Linked DNA regions of Homo sapiens: all the other regions are linked to region 1. The links come from fine-mapping of genetic effects on gene expression. A gene starts in region 1. Each other region holds a variant in brackets. All regions are shown on one strand. Distances are from middle to middle.

Region 1 (10,397 bases):
ACAGGTGACAGGTCGGCCGCTCCCCTGTCACGTTTTGGAAGGAGGAAAGGGCTACCTCTAGTGCTGAACCGAGGATAGTTAGTGCTCAAAACCATACCAGATTTCCTCCAATCAAGGAAGAAATAACAGCCCTGATAATAATAAACAAAACCACTGCTTCCCCCTAGCTGGCTTCCAGATCCTAGAAATCCTGCATGGTATCAGCTTTCTCTAGAGTGTGTGTGTCGTCTGTATTTTCCATTTGGAACTGTGGCCACTGCCATGTGTACTTAAGACTGATGGAAGACGTTTAATCTCTTATTCTGCTGCTTTTAAAGTTGTGCAAAGAAAATCTCAGAGTGGGCAAGCGTGAGGAGTCCAAGCCTCCCGTGCAATGAGAGATCTGCGTGGGAAACAAAATTTCACCACAGGTGTGCTCTAATAATTTCCTCTGCAGGGTCCACCTCTGCACACAACGATTTTCAAGCCTGTGCAGGAGGCAGCTCTTGGCCCTCTATTCCTTGTTGGGGTTGGAGGTCCAGGTCATCTGGCCTTTGCCAGGTGGTGTGGACAGAGAGAGAGCAGCCCACTGGCTTCCTTGGCTGTGCTCCCCAGGGAGCTTCCAGGCCAGCTGAGCCTCCTCTAGGGCAGATGGATGAAGATGAGGTCCCCACCTCGCTGAACAATGTGTGTGTCAGCAGAATTCTTTTCTTCTTTTTACTGCCTTAGAGAGACATGCTGACTTGGTCAAAATCACTTCAGCAAGATGTGACTGATGATGTAGGAAATGAAAACTCCTGGCCCAGCACTGGGAGGCCAGCAGGCGAGGGGCGCGGACACTGGGACCGGGCCACCCGACACAATAACACCCCTTACAATTCCAGGCCGTCTTTCATCCAGGCAAAGGCGGCCCCAGGTGTGGAGCAGACTGGGGCAGATCAGATTACGGTCCTGGAGCCCAGTGCTGGGTGCCCTGGCCAGGGGAACCACAACTGGGGGTGTGTGGGTTGGGGGCTAGCTGCTGGGGAAATGAGATAGGACCCAGGGAAGTCCCTGGGCCCCAGCTGGCCTGCAGGGGGCCTAGGCACAATGTGAGGATTGGAATGCAGTGATGACCTTTTCATCTCTCATGTTCCCTTCCACTTCACTCTCTCTTTTGCTCTGGTACTTTTGCTCTTGCTCTCAGAGTCAGGATACATCTGCTTTTCTCTGCTTGGCCAAAAAGCAGACCATCATGAAAAGTTTTGTTGTTATTTTGTAACTCAGGAGGCTTTCCTGTTACCATATTTTCCTTTTCATCCAGATGGTAACACAATAACATTTATCAAGGGTTTTCTCTGTGTTCCAGGCACTGTGCAAAGCCCTTTCCATGAATTAAGTTCTGCAACCTCACAGCGATCCCAGAAGACAGGCGCTATCAGTCACCCCATTTTACAGATGGGGGAACTGAGGTGTAGAGAGGTTAAGTCCCTTGCCCATGGTGCACAGCTGGAAGAGACAGAGCTGGAGTGTGAATGCGGCTGGGCAGGCTCCAGTGCCCAGGCTACCTCCTCCACACAAGACTTGCCCTCGGCAATCTCAAAGCCTTTTCTGGTGGTGGGCTCAGCTCCCAAACTGGCATCGGATGCACTCCCAGCCAGATATTTCTTGCTTGCCGGTTTTCATTCATTCATTCATTCATTCATTCATTCATTCATTCGGCATTCACTGAGGGCCTGGTGCAGTCTTGGGGATGCCTCTCGGGGAGGAAACAGGGAAAAGAAAGACCCCCCCACCAAGCATGGATCACAGAAAAGATAAGGCTAAATGGGGGTTTGTGGGACTTCAGAGGAAACCTTATCTCTTGAGGTCTTGGATATGAAGAGCATGTTGTCTCTTCCTCTTGCATGAGAAAAGATGGCGTCTCAGAGGAAGGGTTGCTGGGGTGAGGGATCTGGGAGATGCCTTAGCTTGGCGCCTGCACAGTCAGCCCTCAGTCAACCGGTCTCTTTAGGTTTTGGCTGTGCTTATTACTATTCATTCAACAGGTACTAATTGAGCACCTGCTGTGTGCCAGGCTCAGAATAGGCTCAGGTGAGATGCACAAAGAAGGGTAAACTAGAATCCTTGCTTAGACACTGACGGATCAGTTGTTTCATATGTAAATTGTAGCACCAAGACCTGCTGCCCCTGCCCCCAGCCTCACCTGCTTGTGAAGATCCCTCCAAAAGATTTGAGAGTAGATAAAAAGCAGAGACTACTACTGAAGAACAGGGCTGCTTTGGCTCCTTATTATTTCAGACTTTGGAAGAAAATGACCTCCTTTTTCTCTACTGGCACTGGAGGTGGCATAGCCTGTCCCTAGCAAGCCAGCGCTGGAGGGCGTGTGCAGGGCTGGGGACCGAGCCTGGTTTCTGTTCCCTGCTCTGCAGGGCTCAAGCACTTGCTGTTCCTCCACCTGGGATGCCTTTCCCTGGAAAAGCCTGTCTCTTTCTTGTCTTTCAGGACTCAGGTCAGTGGCATCTCCTCCAAAAACTCCCCTTCCCACCCTCCATCACCTCACCCTGTTTATCTGCGCCCCCGCCCCCACTGCCTGTCACTTATTGCAGGCTGAAGTGACCCAGGCTCTCCAGTTGTACACTCTCAGATGGACCCTGGACGACTGTGGCACTCCTGCAATTTCCCCAGTCTCCCTGGGGTAGGATTCCTGCTTGCCAGGATGCCCACCTTTCCTTCTCCCTCCTGCATGTCCTCCTCTGCCTGGCTTCTGAATTGTTTCCAGAGAGAGTGATAGACAAGATCTGCCTCTCCTTCAGTCCCTGAATCTTATTTAAGGCTCTTGCTTTGCTTCCCTGGCCTGGAGGCCGGCTCCTTGATGGAGTCTGCCATGTGGGTTCGCTCATGGCCATGTCTTCCTGCCCAGCATGGTGCTTGGCCCTGGGACTGGCCACATAATATCTGGGCCAGGTGCAAAATTAGTACGGGGCAGGGGGTACTTTGTTCATAGGTGATTCAGAACCACATATGGTGACCTCAGAGTAGGAAACCAAGTGTGGGGCCCTTAAGAGCTGGGGGGCCCTGTACGACTGTCCAGGTTGCAGGCCCCACAGCTCGCCTCCTGATATCCTGTGCTCCATGCTTGTCTGTTGAAGGAAGGAGTGAATGGATGAAGAGCAGGTGGTGGGGGTGGTTTGAGGGCCTTGCCTGGTGGGTGGGTAGAGGCCCCTCCCTGGCATGGGGCTCAAGACCTGTTCCATCCCACAGCCTGGGGCCTGTGTGTAAATGGCCAGGACCTGCAGGCTGGCATTTTTCTGCTCCTTGCCTGGCCTCTGGCCTCCCCTTTCTCCACCCATGTGGCCCCTCAGGCTGCCATCTAGTCCAAAAGTCCCCAAGGGAGACCCAGAGGGCCACTTGGCCAAACTACTTCTGCTCCAGAAAACTGTAGAAGACCATAATTCTCTTCCCCAGCTCTCCTGCTCCAGGAAGGACAGCCCCAAAGTGAGGCTTAGCCAGAGCCCCTCCCAGACAAGCGCCCCCGCTTCCCCAACCTCAGCCCTTCCCAGTTCATCCCAAAGGCCCTCTGGGGACCCACTCTCTCACCCAGCCCCAGGAGGGGAAGGAGACAGGATGAACTTTTACCCCGCTGCCCTCACTGCCACTCTGGGTGCAGTAATTCCCTTGAGATCCCACACCGGCAGAGGGACCGGTGGGTTCTGAGTGGTCTGGGGACTCCCTGTGACAGCGTGCATGGCTCGGTATTGATTGAGGGATGAATGGATGAGGAGAGACAGGAGAGGAGGCCGATGGGGAGGTCTCAGGCACAGACCCTTGGAGGGGAAGAGGATGTGAAGACCAGCGGCTGGCTCCCCAGGCACTGCCACGAGGAGGGCTGATGGGAAGCCCTAGTGGTGGGGCTGGGGTGTCTGGTCTCAGGCTGAGGGGTGGCTGGAAAGATACAGGGCCCCGAAGAGGAGGAGGTGGGAAGAACCCCCCCAGCTCACACGCAGTTCACTTATTCACTCAACAAATCGTGACTGCGCAGCTACAGTGGCTACCAGGCGCTGGGTTCAAGGCACTGCGGGTACCAGAGGTGCGGAGAAGATCGCTGATCCGGGCCCCAGTGCTCTGGGTGTCTAGCGGGGGTAAGAAGGCAATAAAGAAGGCACGGAGTAACTCAAACAGCAATTCCAGACAGCAAGAGAAACTACAGGAAAGAAAACAAACGTGCGAGGGGCGAGGCGAGGAAACAACCTCAGCTTGGCAGGTCTTGGAGGTCTCTGGGAGGAGAAAGCAGCGTCTGATGGGGGCGGGAGGTGGTGAGTGGGGAGAGGTCCAGGCGGAGGGAATGGCGAGCGCAGAGACAGGCTGGCAACGGCTTCAGGGAGGCGCGGAGGGGTCAGCGTGGCTGGCTTAAAAGGATACAGGGACTGAGGGGCAAGACCGGCTCAAGGGTCACCGCTTCCAGGAAGCCTTCTATTTCCGCGCCACCTCCGCGCTCCCCCAACTTTTCCCACCGCGGTCCGCAGCCCACCCGTCCTGCTCGGGCCGCCTTCCTGGTCCGGACCGCGAGTGCCGAGAGGGCAGGGCCGGCTCCGATTCCTCCAGCCGCATCCCCGCGACGTCCCGCCAGGCTCTAGGCACCCCGTGGGCACTCAGTAAACATTTGTCGAGCGCTCTAGAGGGAATGAATGAACCCACTGGGCACAGCTGGGGGGAGGGCGGGGCCGAGGGCAGGTGGGAGGCCGCCGGCGCGGGAGGGGCCCCTCGAAGCCCGTCCTCCTCCTCCTCCTCCTCCGCCCAGGCCCCAGCGCGTACCACTCTGGCGCTCCCGAGGCGGCCTCTTGTGCGATCCAGGGCGCACAAGGCTGGGAGAGCGCCCCGGGGCCCCTGCTATCCGCGCCGGAGGTTGGAAGAGGGTGGGTTGCCGCCGCCCGAGGGCGAGAGCGCCAGAGGAGCGGGAAGAAGGAGCGCTCGCCCGCCCGCCTGCCTCCTCGCTGCCTCCCCGGCGTTGGCTCTCTGGACTCCTAGGCTTGCTGGCTGCTCCTCCCACCCGCGCCCGCCTCCTCACTCGCCTTTTCGTTCGCCGGGGCTGCTTTCCAAGCCCTGCGGTGCGCCCGGGCGAGTGCGGGGCGAGGGGCCCGGGGCCAGCACCGAGCAGGGGGCGGGGGTCCGGGCAGAGCGCGGCCGGCCGGGGAGGGGCCATGTCTGGCGCGGGCGCAGCGGGGCCCGTCTGCAGCAAGTGACCGAGCGGCGCGGACGGCCGCCTGCCCCCTCTGCCACCTGGGGCGGTGCGGGCCCGGAGCCCGGAGCCCGGGTAGCGCGTAGAGCCGGCGCGATGCACGTGCGCTCACTGCGAGCTGCGGCGCCGCACAGCTTCGTGGCGCTCTGGGCACCCCTGTTCCTGCTGCGCTCCGCCCTGGCCGACTTCAGCCTGGACAACGAGGTGCACTCGAGCTTCATCCACCGGCGCCTCCGCAGCCAGGAGCGGCGGGAGATGCAGCGCGAGATCCTCTCCATTTTGGGCTTGCCCCACCGCCCGCGCCCGCACCTCCAGGGCAAGCACAACTCGGCACCCATGTTCATGCTGGACCTGTACAACGCCATGGCGGTGGAGGAGGGCGGCGGGCCCGGCGGCCAGGGCTTCTCCTACCCCTACAAGGCCGTCTTCAGTACCCAGGGCCCCCCTCTGGCCAGCCTGCAAGATAGCCATTTCCTCACCGACGCCGACATGGTCATGAGCTTCGTCAACCTCGGTGAGTAAGGGCAGGCGAGGGTACGCGTCTCCTTTCGGGGGCACTTTGAGACTGGGAGGGAGGGAGCCGCTTCTTCTATGCAGCCCGCCCAGCTTTCCGCTCCTGGCTGAAATCGCAGTGCCTGCCCGAGGGTCTCCCACCCACAGCCCTATGACTCCCAAGCTGTGTGCGCCCCCAGGTCGGGCGCGCTGGGTTCGGTGAGCCTGTAGGGGTTACTGGGAAGGAGGGATCCTCCGAAGTCCCCTCCATGTTACGCCGCCGGCCGCATCTCTGGGGCTGGAGGCAAGGGCCGTTCAAAGCGCGGGGCTCGGTCATGTGAGCTGTCCCGGGCCGGCGCGGCTCGCGCTACCTGGATGTAAAGGGCCCTTCCCGGCGAGGCTGCCTTGCCGCCCTTCCTGGGCCCCTCTCAGCCCTGCCTGGCTCTGGCATCGCGGCCGTCGCACCCCCTTACCCTCCCTGTCAAGCCCTACCTGTCCCCTCGTGGTGCGCCCGCCTTAGCGTACCGCGCGCTCCGAGCGCCTTGGGGCCCCTCTCCGGGCCGCCGGATGCCCCATTCTCTCTTGGCTGGAGCTGGGGAAGAAACGGTGCCATTGCTAATTTTCTTTGTTTTCTTTCTTTGTTTATTTTTTTCTTTTTTCTTTTTTTTTCTTTTCTTTTCTTTTTTTTTTTTTTTGAGACGGAGTTTCACTCTTGTCGCCCAGTCTGGAGTGCAATGGCGCGATCTCTGCTCACCGCAACCTCTGCCTCCCGGGTTCAAGCGATTCTCGTGCCTCAGCCTCCCGAGTAGCTGGGATTACAGGCATGCGCCACCATGCCTGGCTAATTTTGTATTTTTAGTAGAGACAGGGTTTCTCCATGTTAGGCAGGCTGGTCTCGAACTCCCGATCTCAGGTGATCCTCCCGCCTCAGCCTCCCAAAGTGGTGCTGGGATTACAGGCGTGAGCCACTGTGCCCTGCCGCTAGTCTTCTATTTTAAGTATTTAGTGGTAGGTCCCGGGCCGGCAGAATCTATTTTCAGCATTTACCACGTGTGGCGCGCAAACCACAGGTTTTGGCGATTGGGTTGCGCGGGATCTCAGAGCTGACGCCGCGGGGGCGGCTGGGGGTCCCGGTTTCCGACTGGAGCCGCGACGACCCCGGCGACGCGAGCCTGGGGCTGCAGCGAGGGCCGGGGAGCTCCCCCTCCATATGTGCGCGCACATTCTCCAGACTTGCTCAAACTAACCCCCCGGCAGCGCCAGCGCGCTGCGGGACTGATGATCAAATATTTGGTTTCCGAGATAACACACCCCGATAGCGCTGTTTCCTGAGCCGCTTTCATTCTACTTGTGTAACTTGCTGCGAAAACCCGAACCAAGTCAAGACAGCAAACTCACGCCCACGGGCGCTGTGTCAACATGGAAATAATGATACTGAAGCCCCACGCTGGGCACCTGGGGCGTGGACTGGGGGCGCGGGGGAAGCGCAGATCCGCCTTCATGCTTCCCCCTCCTGATAAGGTCCCTGGAGTTCCCGGGAGGCCATTGTCTGTACTTAATAATAACTAAATCCAACTAGTGAACCAAGCTTCAGCGAGCAAGGGGTGGGAGGTTTAGATGCCAAAATACCTTCAAAAAAGTTTAAATTATACTAAGCAGCCAGTTAAGAAGGAAGCAGCAACATATGACCTGATTTAGAACCATCTCCAAGATGTATGAGGTGGAAAGAAGCAAGGTGCAGATGAGTGGGCTGCATGTGTGCTTGTATATCATCGTGTCCTCCTGGAGGAAGACACCAGGAACTGGAGAGAGATTTTACTGGAGGGGTAGAGAGGCGGGGGCATAGCTGGGGCTTACGGAGTGGGAGGTGGGGTCTGATTTTTCGTCGTCTGCACTTCTGTATTTGTGATTTTTTTAAAACAATGTGTATTTATTAACTATACCAAAAACTAAAGGAAAATTCCAAATACATACATATAAATAATGAACGCAGAGCTCTGTCGCCCTCCTGAAGCCTGGGGTTAGCCAGGGCCCTTTCTCTGGTGGGGGATTTATAGCATCTTCCCTTCTGTTGGGTACCCCGGACTCCCACTGAATGTGCAGGTCCCAGTGGCTGCCTTCAGAGCCTGGCTGGAATCATTAAAAAGGTATTTGTAATCTCTGGCTTCTGCAGAAGGCCCTGCAAACCAAGAGCAAAAAAGCCCCCAGTGCTTATGGGCCGGCAGTGTGGGCTAGGCCCCGGGGCTCCCTGTCCCCAAGAGAAAGACCAGGTTGCTCGGAGGGTGCCTCTGGGAACTTTGGTGCGGGCTATTTGCTCCCCCCATGGCGGCAGGAGCAAGCTGGGACTTGTTTGGGAAGGCCACAGCTGGGTGGTTTTCCTCCTCTGGCTGTACATACACCTTTCAATCCATTTCTTTCATCTTGAAAGGACAAAGACCGGCTTGTCTGAGCCTCTTAATCAGTCAGGCTGGCTTTGGGCTTTGTGGGACCCTGACTTTCTCAGGTCTAGCTTTCTGGGACATCACTCCAAATTAGATGGCAGAGTGGCTTTTAACAGAGCGCACTGACCTTGTTTTCTTTCTCTCTCTGTCCCTAAACTCGAGGTCATTAGTTAGGTGAAGACCTGGGCTGCAGTTTGGCGAGACACTTCCTGTAGATGCTTCTAATGTTGGCCTTTAATTTCTGCTAAGCAGCAGCACACAAATAAATGGCCTGTCCCTTCTATCCTGTTGTAGCTTGGAATTTCTCCATAGGAGGGACTTGGGGGTGGCAGTAGGGTTGGAGAGGGTTGGGGGGAGGTGTAGGAGACTTGTCTGGCCACTGAGTTTGCTGAGAAAGTACTGCTATAGTGTTTTTCCTTGGATTGCAAATCATGTTGATCTGTAGTATTCGAAGTTTTCTAAAGGCAAGTTTATTCTCACAATTTACATAAGAGTGAGAAAATATCACTTGCACATATCAAACTATTACTTCTTATTATGGTGGGAGTTTGGCGGGGGGGGCATGGGTGAGGATCTTGGCAGCCTCTGCTGCCCCTTCGCCCTGCACTGCAGAGCTCTGCTGTCTTGCAGGCAGGCGGCCTGCGTGCGCGGGAGGGGGGACCCTTGCCTGAATTCTGAAGGCTTTTGCAGACCTGGTGCATTTATTCTTCCTTCTGTCTGCCGCCAAACTGGTTTTTGTTCCTATAAGTCGTTCTTGGAATTCAAGTTTTTTGCCAGGCTGAGCGGGATCTAAACTAGAGGGGAAACTAGAGGGGAATTTACGACAAAACCAGGTGGTGGGAATGAGGACTAAAGGCCGCACCTTATGACAAAGCCCAGCCTGTACCATAAAGCCCCAGGCAATGTGAACTGAGCTGCCTGAGTGAGACTCCCATCTTCCCAGCCTGGGCCCCTTAAGTTCAATGGCAAGATTTGTAAACTGGTTTGGATTAACAACCCCGACTCCTCTTTGTAGACTTAATTTTGGAATTCAAAACAGCTACCCTCTCTTAAATAATCCCCAGGCAATGGCGACTCCGCACACTGCATCTAGCCATAGCCCGTTACCATTCTTTCTCTGGGAAGATCCAGCAGCTCTGTTAGGAATCTTGTAAAGTAGCCGGCTGGCACTAGGGGAGTGGAAGTCATCATGTTTATCTCTGGTCCAGGTAATGAAGGCATGAAATTTGTGTAATCTTTGAAGGAAAAGAAGAGAAAGTTGGAAACCTATCATTATTGGAGTCAGCCTATAAAAGTGGCTTTTGTTAATGTAGCTGAAGAGTAGGGAGAAGGCCGTGCAGTTTGATTTTTGCTTTATGCCATCTGGCTGTCCTTTTTGTTGACAAGTGTTTGGCATTAAGACCTCTCCCACTGCCCGTCAAGAGCAGGCCCTACCACTGTAGAGTATTAGAAAAAGATTCTGTTACAGTTTAAAAATTTCCTTCAGGGAGTGCTTCGCAAAGGGGAGCGTGGACTGCAGGCATTTGCAGCTGTAACCTGGCTTGTGTTAAAATTTGGAAGGGGCTGCTCCACATTCCAGCACTCGGAGCGCCGGCCCTCACTGGTGAGCAGCCAAAGGTTAATATAGATGTCACACAGCTCCCCCCTTCTTTCTTTCTGCAGAGCGCCTTTGCTATAGGAGTGCACCAACAGCTGTGTTTTTCGTAACCCTTTCAAAATCACTTCTTTTAAACCTCATTTTCCTGCTTATATAAATCAAAGATTTTCCTCCACTTTTCCCAAGCATGTATGTGACCCAGCTTTGAACTTTTTTCATTTTCTATGTATTTTCCTTCTGGAATCAAGGCAGGGTAAGGCTGAGCCCTGGATGCCAACTTGGGTGGCTGTTTTTGGTTTTGGTTCCAGGGTTGTCATTCGGTTGTGGAGCGGTCCCCATGGAAGGGGTAACAGAGATGGCCCACTTGCAAATCAGTTTCAGGGCAGCAAGGGGGATGATTGTCTGAATGCACAGACAGACGAAACCGCTTTTGAGATGCAGCCCTCTCAAGCTACGGTTTGGGGCTTTACCATGGCGTAGTAGGCTCTCAAGCCTTTGCCGAGATAAACACAGCTGGTGCGCGATCCCCTCACCACCGGAATGCCTGCGATGTGAGTGAATATCACGTGTCCGCTGAACTCAGAGACAACTGGTGACTTCATTCCAGGGAGAGTCCCATCTAAGTTGATTGATCACTCCTATCACTTTAATATCTCTCCCTCATTTGGTA
Region 2 (10,397 bases), 710 kb after region 1:
CAAGTAGCTGGGGCTACAGGAGCGTGCCACCACACCAGCTAATTTTTGTATTTTTAGAAGAGACGGGGTTTCACCATGTTGGCCAGGCTGGTCTCAAACCCCTGACCTCGTGATCCGCTGGCCTCAGCCTCCCAAAATGCTGGGATTACAGGGCAGAGCCACCGCACCCGGCCCACTCATTGTTTTTCAAAACTGAGATTATATTAAGCATTCTTTCTTACATCTTGCTTTCCTTAGTTAACACTACCTTGTGGAAAGCTGTCATGGCCAGCTGATAGATAGCCCTAGGTTATTTTTCCTATCCTGCAAAATATTCTAAGATGCAACATTCAATCATTTCTCTATTTATAGGACTGTGTGCTTAGAAAACTCAAAACATACTAGTTATTTTTTCAAAACACTGGAATAAATAAGAAAGTTTGGTTAGATGGCTAGTCTCAGGATAAATATACATCAAACAAGGCTGGGCGTGGTGGCTCACTTCTGTAATGCCAGCACTTTGGGAGGCGGAGGTGGGTGGATCGCCTGAGGTCAGGAATTCCAGACCAGCCTGGCCAACATAGCAAAACCCCATCTCTACGAAAAATACAAAAATTAGACAGGCCTGGTGGTGGGTACCTGTAATCCCAGCTACTAGTGAGGCTGAAGCAGGAGAATCACTTGAACCCAGGAGGCGGAGGTTGCAGTGAGCCCAGAACAAGCCACTGCCCTCCAGCCTGGGCGATAGAGCAAGACTCCATCTTAAAAAAAAACAAAAAACAAACAAAAAAAACCACACAATAGTTTTCTCACACTGTAGCAATAAACACCTAGAAATTTAAATAAGAAACATTTTCATTCAGCATGCAGACAAAAACTATGAAACACTTAGAAATAAATTTGGCTGGGCGCAATGGCTCATGCCTGTAATCCTAGCACTTTGGGAGGCGGAGTGGGTGAATCACCTGAGGTCAGGAGTTCGAGATCAGCCTGGCCAACATGGCAAAACCCCATCTCTACTAAAAATACAAAAATTAGCCAGGCATGGTGGCGGGTGCCTATAATCCCAGCTACTTGGAGGCTGAGGCAGGAGAATCGCTTGAACCCGGGGGGGCAGATGTTGCAGTGAGCTGAGATGGCGCCACTACCCTCCAGTCTGGGTGACAGAGCAAGACGCCATCTCAAAAAAAAAAAAAGAAAAAAAAAGAAAAAGAAAAAGAAAAAGAAAAAGTTGCCGGGCATGGTGGCTCACGCATGTAATCCCAGCACTTTGGAAGGCTGAGGCGTGCAGTTCACCTGAGGTCAGGAGTTTGAGACCAGCCTGACCAACATGGTGAAACCCCGTCTCTGCTAAAAATACAAAAATTAGCCAGGCATGGTGGCGGGCACCTGTAATCCCAGCTACATGGGAGGCTGAGGCAGGAGAATGGCATGAACCCAGGAGGCAGAGGTTGTAGTGAGCTGAGATCGTGCCACTGCACTCCAGCCTGGGCGACAGAGCGAGACTCTGTCTCAAAAAAAAAAAAAAAAAAAAAACACAAAAGTCAAAATCCCCCAATTATGATATAAATTGAATACAATTCCAATTAAAATTTCAGTAAGATTTTTTTCTTGGAGAGGTTGTGTTAGGCATTGAATAGTTTCCCCCAAAAAACCTATGTTGAAGTCCTAACCCCAGTACCTGTGAGTGTGACCTTACTTCTTTGAAGATATAATTAAGATATCATTTAAGATGAGGTTATACTGGATGAGAGTGGACCCATAATCTAATATGACCGGTATCCTTAGAAGAAAAGGACTGCAGCACTATTCGCAATAGCAAAGACATGGAATCAACCTCAATGCCCATCAGTGATAGACTGGATAAAGAAAATGTGCTACATATAGACCATGGAATACCATGCAGCCATAAAAAGGAATGATATCATGTCCTTTGCAGGGACATGGATGGAGCTAGAAGTCATTATCCTTAGCAAACTAATGCAGGAACAGAAAACCAAATACTGCATATTCTCACAAATGGGAGCTAAATGATGAGAACACATGGACACATAGAGGGGAACAACACACATTGGGGTCTGGCCAAGGGTGGAGGGTGGGAGGAAGGAGACGATCAGAAAAAATAACTAGGCTGGCCACGGTGGCTCATGCCTGTAATCCCAGCTACTCGGGAGGCTGAGACAGGAGAATCACTTGAACCCGGGAGGCGGAGGTTGCAGTGATCCGAGATGGCACCATTGCACTCCAGCCTGGGCAACAAGAGTGAAACTCTGTCTCAAAAAAAAAAAAAAAACAAAAAAGAAAAAATAACTAATGGATACTAGCTTAATACCTGGGTGATGAAATTAATAATCTGTAAAACAAACCCCCGTGACACAAGTTTACCTGTATAACAAAGCTGCACATGTACCCCTGAACTTAAAATAAATGTTTTTGTTTTGTTTTGTTTTTTTAAAAAAAGAGGAGGGCCCGGCCCAGTGGCTCACACCTGTAATCTCAGCACTGTGGGAGGCTGAGACAAGTAGATCACTTGAACTCAGGTATTCGAGACTAGCCTAGGCAACATGGTAAACTGCTCTCTCTACTAAAAATACAAAACATTAGCCGGGCTTGGTGGCATGAGCCTGAAGTCCCAGCTTCTTGGGAGGCTGACGTAGGAGGATCACTTGAGCCTGGGGAGGAGGAGGTTGCAGTGAGCTGAGACTGTGCCACTGCACTCCAGCCTGGGCCACAGAATGAGACCCTGTCTCAAAAATAAAAAAAGAAGAGGCACAGTGAGGAGAGAGCCATGTGACCCCAGGGCAGGTGCTGGAGTGATGAGCCTACACCCAAAAAGTGCCAAGAGCTGCCAGCAACACCAGCAGCGAAGAGAAAGGCAGAGAAACATTCTCCCCAAGAGCCTGTGGAGGGAGAACATGGCCCTGCTAATCGTTTGATTTGAGACTTCTGGCCTCCAGAACCGTGAGAGGATACATGTCTGTTGTTGTTGGGGTTTTTTGTTTTGTTTTTTTGAGATAGAGTCTCGCTCTCACTGCAACCTCCGCCTCACAGGTTCAAGCGGTTCTCCTGCCTCAGCATTCCGAGTAGCTGGAATGGCAGCCGTGCGCCACCACCATGCCCGGCTAATTTTTTTTGTATTTTTAGCAGAGACAGGGTTTCACCGTTTTGGCCAGGCTGGTCTTGAACTCCTGACCTCAGATGATCTGCCCACCTCAGCCTCCCAAAGTGCTGGGATTACAGGCGTGAGCCACTGCGCCTGGCTACGTGTCTGTTGTTTCAAGCCACCCAGTTTGTGGTACTTTAGGGTTACAGCAGCTGTAGGAATCTAGTAGAGGATAGAATTAAATAACTGTTGAATGAATGAAGTTAAATTCCTGATTTCATTGGGCAGATATAAATTTTCCTTGCCAGAAAAGAGGATACAGTTGGCAAATCTTCCCCAAACCACAAAAAATAAAAATAAAATTAAAAAAACCTGATCAGAGGGGATTATCAGCATTCTGACCTGGGCTTGGAGTGGGATCCTCACTTCTTCCACAGGATAACTGTAAAAACTGCCGCAAGATTTGCATCTTGGTGGGACCAGCAAGTTTCAGGAATTCATTCCCAGAAACAGTGGCTCCTCCTGCCCCGACTTCCTCAGCCACCGCCAACACACCCATTTCCACCTTGTGTTCCAACACCTCCCTTTTATGTGAACGATTCAGAGAAAGATAAAGTTGATTATGTGATTCTCAAAGCAGAGGGAGCTGTGGCCAAGAAGAATGCAGTGTCTCACGGCCACACCAAAGGATTTTTCCTACCTGGAAATTACGAGGTCTTTCTTCTTCCTGAACTTACCTTGCCCTTGTTTCCCAGAGGCCTAAATCAAGGGAGCAGGTGTGTTTCCAATCACTCATTCACCAGCTGTGAGCAGGGCATACAACCAGTGGTAAGTCAGACAAAACTTAGTGCCTGCATTGAGCATCCAGTGCACCGAAGAGTCCAGTGCACTGAAGAGGGACACAGATTTTCTGTAAATAAACAAGATAATATCCTAATGTGATCAATGTGGAGAAAGTCAGGTGGTGTGATTAAGAATGAGTAGGGGCGGCTGGGCGCGGTGGCTCATGCCTGTAATCCCAGCACTTTGGGAGGCCAAGGTGGGTGGATCACCTGAGGTCAGGATTTCGAGACCAACCTGGCCAACATGGTGAAACGCCATCTCTACTAAAAATACAAAAATTAGCTGGGCGTGGTGGCAGGCGCCTGTAATCCCAGGTACTCGGGAGGCTGAGGCAGGGAGAATTGCTTGAACTCAGGAGGTGGAGGTTGCAGTGAGCCAAGATTGTGCCACTGCACTCCAGCCTGGGTGACACAGCAAGACTCCATCTTAAAAAAAAAAAAGAATGAGTAGGGGCCAGGCATGGTGGCTCACGCCTGTAATCCCAGCATGTTGGGATTTTGTGAGACCTTGCCTTTACAAAAAACAGAAAAAATTAGCTGGGGGTGATGGTTCAGCCCTGTGGTCCAAGCTGCTCGGGAGGCTGAGATGGCAGGAGCACTTGAGCCTAGGAGGTTGAGGCTGCAGTGAGCTGTGAACACACCACTGCACTCCAGCCTGGGCAACACAACGAGACTCTGTCTCCAAATAAACATGCTCATCACCTTAAAAAGAACCTCAAGGCCATTAGCCCTTCCTCTCCTAAGCTCTTGGTAATCACCATTCTACTTGTCAGCTCTATGGATTTGCCTCTTCTGGACATTTCACACACAGGGAATCATATAATATGTGGCTTTTGTGTCTGTTGCAGGTACCAGTACTTCATTTTTTTTTTGAGACGGAGTCTCACTGTCGCCCAGGTTGGAGTGCAGTGGCACAATCCCGGCTCACTGCAACCTCCGCCTCCTGGGTTCAAGCGATTCTCCTGCCTCAGCCTCCGGAGTAGCTGGGATTACAGGCGTGTGCCACCACGCCCAGCTAATTTTGTGTATTTAGTAGAGACGGGGTTTCACCATGTTAGCCAGGCTGAGCTCGAACTCCCGACCTCAGGTAATCCACCCACCTCCCACTCCCAAAGTGCTGGGATTACAGGCGTGAGCCACCGCGCCTCGCCCTCCCACTCATTCTTTTCTTTTCTTTTTTTTCTTTTTTTTTTTTTTAGACAGGGTCTTGCTCTGTCACCCAGGCTGGAATGCAGTGGTAGATCACAGCTCACTGCAGCCTCCATCTCCTGGGCTTAAATGATCTTCCCGCCTTAGCCTCCTGAGTAGCTGGGACTCCAAGAGGGCACCATCACACTCGGCTAATTTTTTTTTTAAATAGAGACAGGCTTTCACCATGTTGCCAGGCTGGTCTCGAGCTCCTGAGCTCAAGCAATCGTCTTGCCTCGGCTTCTCAAAGTGCTGGGATTACAGGCGTAAGCCACCGCACCTGGCCCACACAGTGCTTGAATAATTATTCTGGCA[G/A]TGTCTCACACGTCCAAAGAAGTATGGAGTTCTAGGGAAAGTTCATGTTTGGCAAATGAATGACTGGTTGCTGAATGAAGACTAATGTTGGATTTCTAAATACTGGCAAGCTTTGCACTCTGAGGGAATTTTTGCCTTTCTTTTTTTGAGATGGAGTCTTGCTCTGTCACCAGGCTGGAGTGCAGTGGCAAAATCTTGGCTCACTGCAACCTCTGCCTCCCGAGCTCAAACCATCTTTCCACATCAGCCTCTTGAGTAGCTGGGACCACAGGTGCACACCAAAACATCTGGCTAAGTTTTGTATTTTTTGTAGAGACAGGGTCTCACTTATGTTGCCCAGGCTAGTCTCGAACTCCTGGACTGAAGCCATCCACCCACCTCAGCCTCCCAAAGTGCTGGGATTACAGGCATGAGCCACCATGCCTGGCCTGAATTTTTGTCTTATAAGAGATGATCTTGCACCATCAAAAAAGGTTAAAGGATGTTCAGTCTATTCTGTCAAAAAGGCAGGAGAATACATAGCACGGTTCATAAGACTAAAATTTTAAAATTCTTTATCGAAGGGATTTTGTTTCCTTGGGTGTCCACAGCACCTTTTTTGGTGTGATAATGAAGGATTGTTCCTAAGCACCTGGTACTTGCCAGGCTCCATGCTAAGGGTTTCAAGAGTAAATACTTCACTGAATCCTCTCAATGATCCTGCTCTATTCGAAAAGCACTTTGCGATGAGATTCAGAGAGGTTAAGGGACCTACTTAAGGTAACACAGCTGGTAAGAAGCAGCTGTGGTTTAGGAAGGCAGGACTTCCAGCTTCCAGCTTCTATGCCTTCTCCACTGCCTCACACTGTCACACTCAATGGCTGACTCCTCATCTATGCGTTGACAAAGCCCTGGTGCCTCCAGAAAGCTGGCCTGGAGTGGAGAGTTAAGTGTCTGGGAGCCTTCCCTCCTGAATGCGACATTTCTCTCCACGTTGCATGGAATGGCACCAAAACTTTTTTTTCTTTAAGACGGAGTCTACTCTGTCTGACACAGTGGTTCACGCCTGTAATCCCAGCACTTTGGGAGGCCAAGACAGGCGAATCACGTTAGGCCAGGAGTTCAAGACCAGCTTGGCCAACATGGTGAAACCGCTTCTCTACTAAAACTACAAAAATTAGCCAGGCATGGTGGCGCATGCCTGTAGTTCCAGCTACTCGGGAGGCTGAGGCAGGAGGATTGCTTGAGCCCAGGAGGTGGAGGTTGCAGTAAACTGAGATCATGCCACTGCACTCCAGCCTGGGTGACAGAGCAAGACTCAGTCTCAAAAAACAAAAAACAAAACAAAAAAAACAAAGATGATCAGGTCCCTGATATAAAATTGTGTAGTATTTGCGCATAACTTACACATATCCTCCTGTGTACTTTAAATGATCTCTAGATTACTTATAAATGTAAATGCTATGTAAGTAATTGTAGTTTAAATAGTTTAAAACAATATGCTACATTGTTTTAAGATTTTTATTATTTTTTATTGCTGTACTGGCTTTTTCTTTCTTTTTTTTTTTTTAGAGACAGAAGGCTCTGTCTCCTAGGCTGGAGTGCAATGGTGCGATCTCGGCTCACTGCAACCTCTGCCTCCGGGGTTCCAGCGATTCTCCTGCCTCAGCCTCCCAAGTAGCTGGGATTACAGGCACCCGCCACCATGCCCAGCTAATTTTTGTATTTTTAGGAGAGACAGGGTTTCACTATGTATTGGCCAGGATGGTCTTGAACTCCTGACCTCAAGTGATCCCCCCGCCTCGGCCTCCCAAAGTGCTATGATTACAGGCATGAGGCACCGCACTCGGCCGTATTGGGTTTTAAAAATATTTTTTATTTGAGGTTGGTTGAAGTCGAAGGCCTGAAACCCATGGATACGGAGGGCCAACTGAATCTGTTGTTTAAGCCACCTGGTGACCTGAAATGATATTTTGTTACAGCAACCTGAACAGACTAACACAACCTTTGTTAGATGATGATTTGAGAATATTTTCTTCCATTCCCTCAGTTGTTTTTTCACTTTCTTTCCATTTCCTTTGAAGCACAAAAGTTTTTCATTTTGATGAAGTCCAATATCTATTTTTTCCTTTTTGATTTCTTGTGCTTTTTGTTGCATTGCTTTGGAATAAGAAAAAAACAGGGGGGGAACATTTTATGAAAAAAAAACAGGCCCAGACATACTGCAGCCTATTCATGCAGTGACATTCCTGTCCACGGGGAGCTAACACTCAGTCAGCATTCCCATGGGGTTGACTCCTCCATTCGTCTTCCTCTCTGGCCTTTTTCCAGGTTGCAGGAGAAGTCTTTCATGTTCTGATGAGCCAGATGGCACAACAAACAGCTTTGAATTTAAGTGGGATGAGTCATCACTTAAATGTACTTAGAAATTCTAAAATTAGTCCAGTGTAAGCCATTTCTGCTTTCTGTTTTCAGTTTCTCTGACTGGATGTGCCAACAGTGTTTGCTGACTGTAGAGTAAACCCCAACACTGGCAGATGGTGGTTGTGCTGCTTGAAGTGGAGATGGGCAAACCCTGCCCGATCTAGAAAAACGTGTACCATGTGTGTTTTTAATAGCAAAACATCGGGGAAACCTAGACATCCACCAGTAGGGAACTGGTTAAATTATGATACATGTAAACCAGAATAATAACAGCCAAATATATTGAGGGTAGAGAGTTGAATATGTTAAGCAGGAAAAACTTTTCCTCTACCATCTTCAGTTCGGTACCTGGGATCTGCAAATTAAAGTAACAAAAGACAGATTAACAGGAGAAAAAGCATATAATTTTTGTTAATATTTACATGCATGAGAATTTATAGAAAAGAAGTAAAACTCAAAGAAATGGTTAGATTCAGGCTTATATAACTTTTATTTTTGACACAGAGTCTTGCTCTGTTGCCCAGGCTACAGTGCAGTGGTGTGATCTCAGCTCACTGCAACCTCTGCCTCCCATGCTCAAGCCATTCTCCTGCCTCAGCCTCCGGAGTAGCTGGGACTACAGGCACCGCCAACACGCCCGGCTAATTTTTGTATTTTTAGTAGAGATAGGGTTTCACCATGTTGGCCAGGCTGGTCTCAAACTCCTGACCTCAGATGATCCCCCTTGGGCTCCCAAAGTGCTGGGATTACAGGCGTGAACCACTGTGCCTGACCTTATATAGCATTTTAACAAAGGAAATAAGGTTTGGGTTTCAAGCAATGATAAACTGTAGGAAAGTGACCAGGAAATGGGAGAACTAATGGAAGATAAGGGCTAATATAGTAAGGTTGGCTTATGCAAATTAATATCTTAGTTTATGTATTGAGTGGCCAGGTGCAGTGGCTTATGCCTGTAATCCTAGCAGTTTGGGAGGCCAAGGCAGGAGGATTGCTTGAGTTCAGGAGTTTGAGACCAGCCTATGCAACAAAGTGAGACCCGTCTCTACAAAAAATTTAAAAATTAGCCCAGCGTGGTGGTATGCACCTGTAGTCCCAGCTACTCAGGGGGCTGAAGTTGGAGGATCGCTTGAGCCCAGGAGATCAAGGCTGCAGTGAGCCAAGACCACATCATTGTACCCCAGCCTGGGTGAGAGATCGAGACCCTGTCTCAAAAACAAAAACAAAAAAATTTGGTTAATGTTTCAAGGTCACATTGTGAAATTATTAGTTATATTTGTTGTATTAGTTATGTAATATATAAAACTAATATATAATATTATATAATAAATGAGTTATGATAATAACTCATGTTTATATTTTTGTATTATTATAATAACTCATTTGTTAAGCATTTACTGTGAGCCAGGCATTGCCTAGGCTTGGCAGTGGAGACCCGATGGTGGTGGGTTGTGCCCTCCCGAAGCTTCTCCTTTAATGCTGTGAGTCAGAAACCCAGTCGCAATGGTAATGAATGTGTAATTAAGGGCAGCGTGTACCCTTGGTAGGCAGGAGCGGGGCTCAGGACCTTTGTACTTTCTGTGCATGCTCTGTTCCAAAGTGTCCTCTTAAAGGTCTTCCCTGACCATGAAGCCCAGGAGCCCCTCCTCCTGGTGCATCCTTCTTTCTAGGCTGATCTTCTCCTGACATGCTATTGTATATTCCCGTGTCATTGCTGTTGTCTGCTCCCCGTTGTCTAACAGCCTCTAAGAGGCTGACAACTCATAGGATTCTATTACCTCTGCATGCTCAGTGCTGAGAGCCTGCTTGGCTCATGGGAGTCAGTTAATATTTAGAGAACAAATGGATGTCTGGCAAGGTAGGTGGGCTGAGACCAGGCTGAATGGGCAGGGTGGGGAACCCAAAGTTGTGCCCACTGTCCAAGTCACACAGTTTCTGTTCCCTTTTTTTCTTTTCTTTTTTATTTTTGAGATAAAGTCTCACTCTGTCACCCAGGCCAGAGGGCAGTGGCGTGATCTAAGTTCACTGCAACCTCCACCTCCCTGATTCAAGTGATTCTCCTGCCTCAGCCTCCTGAGTGGTTAGGATTGCAGGTGCCTGCCACCACACCTGGCTAGTTTTTGTATTTTTAGTAGAGATGGGGTTTCACCATGTTGGCCAGGCTGGTCTTAAACTTCTGACCTCAGGTTATCTGCCCACCTCCGCCTCCCAAAGTGCTGGGATTACAGACATGAGCCACTGCGCCCAGCCTACAGAACTGTTAAGTAGCTCAAACATGATCAGAGCCTGAGGACCCCCTGAAGGGCACCCTGCACAGGCTAGTTTTCTGCCAATGGCCTCCACAGACCTTCTGGTCCATTTCAGAGTGGTACACAGCCCTACCTGACTGCACGTGTGCCCTTTCTGGGAAGGAAGGCTTGTTGCCCGCCACTCCCAGATTGTCAGAGCCCGCTGGGTCCAGAGTCCAAGTGTTACAGGAAAGGGGTCCTGATCCAGACCCCCAGAGAGGGTTCTTGGATCTCGTGCAAGAAAGAATTCAGGGTGAGTCCATAGAGTAAAGTGAAAGCAAA
Region 3 (10,397 bases), 340 kb before region 1:
TGTGCACTGAATCACGTTATATCTAAAAAACAATGTACATACCTTAATTTTAAAATACTTTATTGCTAAAAATGCTAACCATCACCTGTCTTCTGCCAGTCATCATCTCTATGCTGGTGGAGGTCTTGCCTTGATGTTGATGGCTGCTGACTGATCAGGGTGGTGGTTGCTGAAGGTGGAGGCAGCTGTGGCAATTTCTTAAAATAAGGCAACAATGAAGTTCGCTGCAGCAATGAACTCTTCCTTTCATGAAAGCTTTCTCTGTAGCATGCAATGCTGTTTGATGGCATTTTACTCATACTAGAACTTCTTTCAAAATTGGAACCAAGACTCCCCAACCCTGCTGCTGCTTTACCAACTAGGTTTATATAGCAGTCTAAATCCTTTGTTGTCATTTCAAGAATGTTCGCAGTATCTTCACCAGGAATAGATGCCATCTCAAGAAACCACTTTCTTTGCTCATCCATAAGAAGCAACTCATCTGTTCAAGCTTTCTCATGAGATTGCAGCAATTCAGTCCCATCTTCATATTCCACTTCTAATTTGTGTTTTCCTGCTATTTCCACCACATTTGCAGTTGCTGCCTTCACTGAAGTCTTGAACCCCTCAAAGTCATTCATGAAATTTGGAATCAACTTCTTCCAGACTCCTGTGAATGTTGATAGTTTGACCTCCTCCCATGAATCACAAATGTTCTTAACGGCATGTAGATTGGTGATCTTTTCCAGAAGATTTTCAACTTACTTTGCCCAGATCCATCTGAGGAATCACTCTGTGTTGCACTTATGCCCTCATAAAATATATTTATTGAAGAATAAGAAGTGAATGTTGAAGTTACTCCTTAATCCATGGGCTGCAGAATGGATGCTGTGCTAGCAGGCATGAAAACAATGTTAATTCTTTTTTACATCTCCATCAGAGCCCGTGGATGAACAGGTGCATTGTCAACGAGTAGTAAAAAAAAAATTTTTTTTTGGCCCTCAATCCAGGATGCGGAACACTCAGATCCTGTGGTATGGACGATGAGCAGTGAAATGTTCAAAGGAATATTTTGTTTTCTAAGCAGTAAGTCTCAATGCTAGGCTTAAAATATTCAGTAAACCAAGCTATATACAGGTGCTCTCATCTAGCTTTGTTGCTTCATTCATAGAACATAGGCAGAGTCGATTTAGCATCATTCTTAAGGGCCCTAGAATTTCCAAAATGGTAATTGAGGAGAGGCTTCAGCTGAAAGTCACCAGCTACATTAATCTCCAACAAGAGAGCCTGTCCCCTTTGAAGCTTTGAAGCCAGGCATTGACATCTCCTTTCGAGTTATGAAAGTTCTAGATGACATCTTTTTTCAATAGAAGGCTGTTTCATCTACATTAAGAACCTGCTCTGTTGTGTAGTCACGCTCATCAATGATCTTAGCTAGAGCTTCCGGGTAACCTGCTGCAGCTTCTCCATCAGCACTTGCTGCTTCACCTCACACTTGCATGTTATGGGGACGGTTTCTTTCCTTAAACCTCATGAACCAACCTCTGCTCACTTCCAACTATTCTTCTGCAGCTTCCTCACCTCTCTCAGCCTTTAGAATTGAATAGAGCAAGGGCCTTGCCCTAGACGAGGCTTAGGTTTAAGAGATTGTTGTAGCTGGCTCGATCCTCTATCCAGACCACTAAAACTTTCTCCACACTAGCCACAAGGCTGGTTCACTTTCTCATCACTCATGTGTTTGCTGAAGTAAGACTTTTAATATCCTTCAAGACCCTTTCCTTTGCCTTCACAATTTGGCTAACTTTTGACCTAGCTTTCAACTTGTCTTAGCTTTGGACATGCCTCCCTCACCAAGCTTAATCATTTCTCACTTTTGATTTAAAGTGAGAGACGTGCAACTCTTCCTTTCACTTTAGCACATAGAGGCCGTTTGGGGTTATTTATTTATTTATTTATTTATTTTTGAGATGGAGTTTTGCTCTCGTTGTCTAGGCTGGAGTGCAATGGCACAATCTTGGCTCACTGCAACCTCCACCTCCCAGGTTCAAGGGATTCTTTTGCTTCAGCCTCCTGGGTCGCTGTGATTACAGACCTGCACCACCACGCCTGGCTAACTTTGTATTTTTAGTAGAGATGGGGTTTCTCCATGTAGGTCAGGCTGGTCTTGAACTCCCAACCTCAGGTGATCTGCCCACCTCAGCCTCCCAAAGTGTTGGGATTCTAGGTGTGACCCACGGCGCCCGGCCCATTGTAGGGTTATGAATTTTCCTAATTTCAATATTGTTGTGTCTTCAAGGAATAGGGAGGCCTGAGGAGAGGGAGAGAGAGGAGGAGATGGCTGATCAGTGACAGGTTAGAGCACACAGATTTATTAATTAACTTCGTCATCTTCTACAGGTGATATTTGTGGCACCCCAAAGCAAAGCAATTATAATAGCAACATCAAAGATCACTGGTCACAGATCACCATAACACATATAATCAAAATGAAAAAGTGTGAAATATTGTGAGGATTACCAAAATGTGACGCAGAGACAGGAAGTGAGCATATGCTGCTGGAAAAATTGGCACTGATAGACTCGCTTCACACAGGGTGCCACAAACCTTCAACTTGTGAAAAATGAGTGCAATATCTATGAAGTGTAATAAACCAAAGTACAATAAGGTAAAGTGAGATAAAATGAGGTCTGCCTGTCACTTCCTCCTTGAGTGGCGGGCGGGACCTTATCCTGAGATGTGTAAGGCCTGGAATGGTTTTTGTTTTGTTTTGTTTTGTTTTGTTTTGTTTTGTTTGAGGAAATTGCTAATCAGAGACTGTCAGTGCCAGAGCATGTAGAGCCGTCTTTTGGGGTCCCTGGGAGGACTGGGAGAGCCCTGGGATGGGGGCTTTCTGGTGTTATTTCTGCTCCTCCATCTCACTGCTGTGAAACTAGGACAGGACTGGCTACATGATCTGGGGGCCCAGTGCAAAGTGAAAAGGTGGGGCTCCCTGTTCAAGACTTTGTACAAATCTAAAGACAGTAACAACAAAGGCTCAAGCTGAGCTCGAAATCCTTCCAAGAGCGGGTCCCTGTGGAAATGCCCAGGCCACGTGCCCATGAAGCTGATCCCCCATCTTCTCTTCCCTAGGTCGTCGTCCCGCAGACACACAATCCAGAAGTCACTTTCCTCGAGACATTGGTCAGCCCATCACTCCCAGCCACTCGAAGCTCACCCCCAAGCTGGAAACTATGACTCTTGGAAACAGGAGTCACAAAGCTGCAGAAGGCAGCCACTATGTGGATGAAGCCTCACACGAGGGGAGCTGGTGGGGAGGTGGGATTTAGTGCACAGCCTCACGTGGGGCTTGGACACAGGCTGGGGGTGGGCGCATGCTAGGGAGACTAGCCTGCTGCTCTCTGCATTCCTTAGCGTCTTGTTTGACCTGCTTGCTTCCAGACATAACCTGCATGAATCAGTTTTGGGGGAATGGACCTGGCATGGGGATGGGTTCAGGCCAGGTCTTTTGATGGCCAGGAGTAGATGACAGGGAGTTGCCTTGGGGAACCTTTGGTGTGCCAAGAGGAGGTGGGTAGATGGGAGTGGGGCTCGGTCCCCCAGGCCCAGGGGACTCTCTCCACTCTTTCCTGGGCTCGGGGCATCTGCCTGGAGTTACCTTCCATCATGGCTACCTGCTGTGGTTTGAATGTTTGAGTCCCAACAAAATTCATATCAAAACATAATCCCAACTGGGTGCAGTGGCTCACGCCTGTAATCCCAGCACTTTGGGAGGCCGAGGCGGGCGGATCAATAGGTCAGGAAATCCAGACCGTCCTGGCTAACATGGTGAAACCCCGTCTCTACTAAAAAAAAAAATACAAAAAATTAGCCGGGCGTTGTGGCGGGCACCTGGAGTCCCAGCTACTCCGGAGGCTGAGGGAGGAGAATGGTGTGAACCCGGGAGGTGGAGCTTCCAGTGAGCCGAGATCGCGCCACTGCACTCCAGGCTGGGCGACAGAGCGAGACTCCGTCTCAAAAAAATAAATACATAAATAAAAAATAAACCAACCATAATCCCCAGTGCAGTGGTATGAAGAGATGGGGCCTTTTGGAGGGGATGGAGTCAGGAGGGCGAGTGGGATTGTGGGATTAGCGCTGCCATGAAAGGGCTTGAGGGAGCCTGTTAGTCCCGCTTGCCTGTCCGCCATGTGAGGATGCAGTAACAAAGTGCCATCCTTAAAGCCGAGACCAACCCCTCATCAGACACTGACTCTGCTGGCACCTTGATCTTGGCCTTCCCAGACCCCGAAACTGTAAGCAATAAATTCCTGTTGCTTATAAATTACCCAGGGTGAGGCATTTT[T/A]TTATAGCAGCCTGAGCCAACTGAAACACTGCCCCACTCTCTCCTCACCTGAGGTCTCACTTCCTCAAGGCCCATTGTGGCCACCTGACCTCCTTATCACCCGACCTTTCTAGAATCTTCTCTCCTCAGCCTTGATCTCTCAGGATCTTTTAGCTGGACTCCCAAAGAGAAAATTCTTTCCCACCCCGACCCTGGGTCCCCAGGCCCTGGTGGAAGTCATTGGCTGACCCATGGGTCAGGTGACCTCTTCTGGCCAATCAGCAGGGAGTGCTTGTGGATTAGCCCATTTTCACGCTGCCGATAAAGATATACCCAAGACGGGGTAATTTATAGGCAAAAAGAAGTTTAACGGACTCACACTTCCACGTGGCTGGGGAGGCCTCACAATCACGGTGGAAGGCGAAAGGCACGTCTTACATGGCAGCAGGCAAGAGAGAGAATGAGAGCCAAGGGAAAGTGGCTTCCCTTATGGAGCCATCAGATCTCATAAGACTTACTTCACTACCAGGAGAACAGTATGGGGGAACCATCCCCATGATTCAATTATCTCCTGCTGAGTCTCTCCCACAACACATGGGAATTATGGGAGCTACAATTCAAGATGAGATTTGGGTGGGGACACAGCAAAACCATGTCAGCTTGTTATTTACCAGACCCCACCACCCCGCTAGGGGCTAAGTTCCCGTAGAAGGGCTATGGGCTCTGCAACATTTCTTGAACCATGGGGTGGGGTGGGTAGTGGAGGGATTTGGTGGGGCATGGTGGGAGGAAGATGGAGAGGGATAGAGGGAGGTGGTGATCAGCTGGGCAGGGTGATTGTGGAACAAGGACTGTGTCCGTCCTTCAGTGTGCACATAGGCACACACACATGCACACACAGGTGTACACACACACATGCACACACACAGGCACTCTGCTGCCCCCAACTCCAATGCCACACCCAGTCCTCAGGTGGGCGTTTGTCACACTCCACTCTGTCTCCTTCACTGGCCTTGGCATCTGACACCCAAAAGCTGATGCCCCTGGGGCTAATGTCTACCTTGGCGGGGAGGGGCTGGCTCATCACAGGGCCTCAGTAAAAACAGTTATTGAACAAATTCATATCTCCTTGCCCAACTCGACTGGGAGGATCTTTAGGGTGGATGCTTTGACATATTGGTCAGAACCTAGACTGATATATAGAACTTACAGTTCATCCCTTAAAGGGGATTCGTAAGACATTGTTTGAGCTCCTTGATCCAGTCATTCCTGAAGCAGAACCTATCCTAGCACTTACCCATTAGAAGAACTGAGATGTCCCCTTAGTGCTGAAGCCAGCTCCACTGGGATTTCCATTTCTGAAGGGCAGCTGCCCCCTCACCTCCCCTACCCACTCCCCTTAGCTCACTGCTACTCAACCTGAGGCATGACCTTACCGAGAGATTTCAGAGCTCCCAGGCTAGCTGGATGCCTCCTGTCTGCTTCTGAAGCCTCCTCTGCTCCCCATATCAAACCCACACTTCATTGCCCCAACATTGCCTTGTCATTAGTCTAGCTCTCGTCCATCGAGACTCATTTGGTCGTAGATGATAGAAAGCTGAGACCTGCTTCAGCACAAAAGGGGATGCACTGGATCTTCTAATAGACAAGCCCAGGCATAGAGCCTGCTTCAGGAATGTCTAGATCCAGGAGCTCAGGTGATCTCTTAGAACTCAGCCTCGCTCCACCCCCCTACTGCTTTCCTCTGTTTTCAATGATAGCCCCCAGCAGCTCCAGGCCCCCACACCACTAGCTTAGCTACCCAGTGGAGAGGGATGACTTTCCCGACAGCAAAAGCCACAACAGATGGCTTTATTTGTATGCCCATTCCCCACCAGTCATTGGCCAGAGCAATAGAATGCGGTGATTGGCCAACTGGTATCACATAGCTTATCTCTGGAACCAGGATGGGGAGCAGCCACCCCCAGTCACATGGCCTAAGGGTGATGGATCAGCTGTTTTCTAAATTTACCAGGAAAGGGATGCTGGACAGGCTAGAACCTCAGAAGTCCGCTACACTCCCCAGCTTTGAATGAGGAATTTACTGGACTCAGGGGCCCTGGCTTTCAACTCTTATACCTCCAGGGTCCAATGTATGCTGGACAAGGCCCTTCACTGACCACATCCTGCAGGCTAACTCCTGTGCTGGGCCCTTGGGCTACTGAGAGTGGGAGACAAAGCCCTGTCATTGATAGTGGCTCACAGTGAGTCAGGAGGGGAACGTACACAGGCAGGGAGTTCAGAGCAGGAACCATCACAGGGAATCATGGGAGTGTGGGACAGGGGCCCAGACACAGCCTAGAGGGGTCCAGAAGGCTTCCTGGAGGAGGAGGGAACTCTCAAGAGCACATTTTTCAAGACCAGGCAGAGGGAGGAGGCTGCGTAGGGTGGAAATGGTGCTCTAGGCAGGCCACAGCTGGAGTAAAGCCATGAAGATCAGAACCAGCTGAGTTATTCAGAGAACCACCGTGGTTTGGGTATTGCCGGAGAGCCCAGCACAAAGAAGAGTGGAGGGAGGCTGGCTGCGGAGGCAGGTGGGGACCAGACCATGGCCGCTTGGGAGTTTGGACCAGACACTGCTGTACAAGCCAGCCCACAGGGAGGACTGGGCAGACCTAGGCAACAAGGTCGGTACAGCCATTGGATTGACTCTGGGGGATAGGGTGTCTTGTCCCATGGACTGGAGCTGCTCAGCCATACTGTAGGCAAAGTTATCTCAACCACCATGCTGATCTGGGATCCCCAGAGTATTTTCTCATAGAGTACCCAGTTTGCAAACATGAGTCACTAGGCAGGAGGGGATGAGAATGGGGTTTGTCTATCTTTCTGGGCGTGTCTTCCTGCTGCATGGAGCTGCAAATCAGTTGCTTGCCTCCAAGTTTGGCCAAACTTTGTGGATAACCAGGCCCCCTGTCAATGAGGAATCAAAATGCAGCTTCCACCCCCAGGCTGAATCAGAATACTCATTTTCCCAGCAAGATTTTCCCTGTGTAATTAATTTGTCATAAATACGCTGACAAAGCATTGCTAGCAGTTAATGGGGGCCAGAGGTGAAGGTCAATGTTAGTCTCCTTGGGAAGGAAATTAACTAGATACCATTAAAAGCAGAGAATGATTAAGTCCATCCACCCCTCAGCCCGCGCTGTGTCTAGCCCGCCCACCCACCCCTCCCTTCTGCCATGGTGTGTGCAAACGGAGCTTGTAGCCCCCAGAACTCGATGCAGGGAGGAGGAATTTGCTCCAGGAGTTGGAAATGATTTTCTGAAACCACCAACCTGCTCACAGATGCAATTTTATGTTCTCATTCCAGCTGCTCTCCTCCTCTCTGGGTGACCCCAGACAGGACTCCTCACTTGTGAGATTTTACCAGGCAACCAAAATTGGATGCTTAGAGCAGGAAGAAGAGTCTACAGAGGGACTCACGGGCATTTTGGCTTTGAATGGCCGAAGCCTAGCTCCCCAGGCTCAGGCACAATGGTGAATGTATTTGCTCATGCAACTGGGGAATCAAGGGACACTCATGTTCAGGAATGGTTGGATCCAGAGGCTCAAGCCTTCCTTTCAGGCTTCTTTCTCTCCAGCTCTCTGCTCTCTGATGAGTCTCTCTCCACAGGGCCCCAGCCACCGAAGGCTCAAAAAAAAAAAAAAAAACAAAACAAAACCCTGCATGGGGAGTTGTGAGAATCTGAAGCCTGATACTGCACAGAAAACCTATGAAGCCACTGGGTCTGGCCTGGAATGGAAGGCTGAGTGAATGTGGGAAAAAATTTTCAAGTGGGAAAAATGAAACCAATAAGATTTTTAAAAATACAGTCGGTTATGTATGTGTGGGTTCTGAGGATCGAAAATATCTGAAAAACAAGATGACTGCATCTGTACTAAACACGTGTGGACTTTTTTGTCATTATTCCCTAAATGATACAGTATAACAACTATTTACATAGCATTCACATTGTTTTAGGTATTATAAGTAATCTAGAGATGATTTAAAGTATACAGGAGGATGTGCATAGGTTATATGCAAATACTATATCATCTCATATCAGGGACTTGAGTATCCATGGATTTTGTACCCACAGGGAGTCCTGGAGCCAATCCCCTGGGGATACTGGGGGACGACTGTATGTTTAGGCATCTGTTCAATATTGTAGGTGGGATGTTGCAGATCTATTTGTACTTTTGAATCAAAACAAAAAGCAGGTTTTTTTGTTGTTTTTTTTTTAGCGTGCTTATTGACTCACAAACTAGCAGTGTTCAGGTAAGGCCTCATCCAGCAGCTCAAACAATGTGGTTCAGGACCCACTGTCCCTCCATCTCTCTTCATGGCTTCCCACAGACTCAGCTTTTTCAGGCTCCACACGGAGACTTTCCAGCCACTAAGAGTTCTGCCCTGCTGGGGACAAAATGGCTGCAGTGGTTCCAGACCTCACATTCCCACAGGGGACAAAAGCAATTTCTAAACCACCCCAGTATTTGCCACCTCCAATTGGGCATGGGGATGAGAGTCATTAGCTGTAGCCAATCCAGGCTCACCCCTGAATTTGGGGGTGCTTAGAATGGTGTGGACCTTCTGTGACAAGGGCATTTTCTAAGCATTCTTTAATCCTCCCCTTAAGTACATGAGGAGACTGGGGCCAAGGGAGGGTAAGTGGCTTGCCCAAAGCCACATGGCTGACAAGTGAGACCCATGTTCAAAATTCCAGATTGAAAACCAGATTTTTCCAGTCCTGGTGGTCAACCCATCACGGAGGATTTAACACTCCCATCTGCCAGGCTGCTAGCTCCCACGGATGACAGCAGACTGGCACCCACCCACGGGCAGCCACATCACCTCAGATGGGGAGGGGCCAGCAGGACCAGGATTTTGCATTCCATGAAAACCCTCTTCTGCAAGAGCTCCTGTGAAACAAGGGTTCCTTGGACAGTTGTGGATACGCAGCATGATGCAGCCCCCGCTGCATGATTCCAAGGCAGCCCATTCAGGGAGGTGAAACTACTGCTCAAGGACAGAGATAGGATTCAAACCCACTCAGGGAGGTGAAACTACTGCCCAAGGACAGAGATAGGATTCAAACCCAGCCATCAGGCAGGCTTGCAAGCCAGTGCTCTTAAACATGTTACTGAAAAAGCTGCCTGGGACATATCACCGCGGCCTGGCTGTCACCTCCCAGCCCCTGGCTGGTCAGCTCCCCCACTGTGTCTCATTGACCTGCCCCCCACGCCCACCCCGGGGCACAGTGGCCTTTGCCACAATCAGCTGAATGCCCCCAGCTGCTGGAGAAGCAATCCAGCAGGGCCAGTGCCGGCAAAGCCCTGAAGGCGGGAGTGTCAGCTGGGGGGCCGGGGGTGGGGAAAGGGGGGAGGGGGTCTGGCGCCCCTGGCTACAGAGCTCGAGACAGGCCTGGCCCTCCCAGCTCCACCTGCAGGTCAGGGGTGTGGGGGGTGAACTGCGTGGCTGGGAGATCCTGGAGGTGAATCTTTGATCCCCCCATTTGTGTGACTCCTCTCTGCCCCCAGCATCTGGCTTACCGGCTCTGAACCTCTGTCTTTCCCTCTCACCTCCTCCTTCCTCTTAGATGGACCCCTGTGATGACATCGAGGCCACCCTGATAATGCAGGATGACCCCCCACCTCACTATCTTTAACTTAATCACCTCTGCAAAGTCTGTTTCTCCATGTAAGGTAACATGTTCCAGGTTCTGGGATTAGAACACGGGCATCGTCCTGGGGAGCCTCACACAGCCCGCACTGCTGAGCATGCTTCAATGTGCAGGCTACCCCATGCCCTTCAACGCTCAGCGCACCCCATGCCCCTAACACAGACATCTAGCCCAGAGTGCCAGCAAGGCCCAGACTGAGAAGGTCCGTTACAGGCGCTGCTGCTGCTGTTAATATCACGAATATAAAAGAATAAATGGGGAAAAAAATAATGGGGCTTGGCGTCACAGCCCCTGGTGTGTGTAATCCCAGGCAAGTGAGTGTAATCTCAGGCAAGTCCTGCCACCTCTGAGCCTCAGTTTCCTACTCTGTTAAATGGGCAGAAATAGGGACAGACCCT

Which allele goes with the higher level. Positions count from the first base shown, and alleles are read on the strand shown. Sizes are in standard deviations (SD) of each study's normalised expression. Not every link is listed here.
As copies of G replace A in region 2, the expression in sigmoid colon of the gene that starts at base 4,775 in region 1 goes down (small effect, 0.38 SD a copy in GTEx).

What was found. PIP is the estimated chance that this variant, and not a neighbour inherited with it, causes the effect.
Region 2: its variant is fine-mapped to the expression of BMP7 in sigmoid colon (GTEx, PIP 0.94).
Region 3: its variant is fine-mapped to the expression of BMP7 in spinal cord (GTEx, PIP above 0.99).

What each region holds. Positions count from the first base shown.
Region 1 is chr20:57,261,019-57,271,415 of GRCh38, reverse strand. BMP7 (bone morphogenetic protein 7) reads left to right here and starts at 4,775. Exons shown (of 7, transcript NM_001719.3): 1 at 4,775-5,711. The coding sequence starts at 5,294. LOC112268270 (translation initiation factor IF-2-like) reads right to left here and starts at 4,976. Exons shown (of 2, transcript NR_171651.1): 1 at 4,774-4,976; 2 at 4,129-4,633. RefSeq lists a cis regulatory region at 4,576-4,668, a promoter at 1,926-5,287 and enhancers at 6,396-7,111, 7,830-8,546.
Region 2 is chr20:56,552,476-56,562,872 of GRCh38, reverse strand. LOC124904971 (a long non-coding RNA gene) reads right to left here and starts at 8,955. Exons shown (of 2, transcript XR_007067758.1): 1 at 8,915-8,955; 2 at 7,262-8,185. RefSeq lists an enhancer at 7,988-8,037. The variant G/A (reference allele first, on the strand shown) is at 5,428.
Region 3 is chr20:57,597,481-57,607,877 of GRCh38, reverse strand. It overlaps ZBP1 (Z-DNA binding protein 1), which reads left to right. Exons shown (of 8, transcript NM_030776.3): 8 at 3,109-4,026. The coding sequence ends at 3,305. Among named protein-coding and RNA genes, the nearest start is that of ZBP1, 18 kb to the left of the region's middle. The variant T/A (reference allele first, on the strand shown) is at 4,322.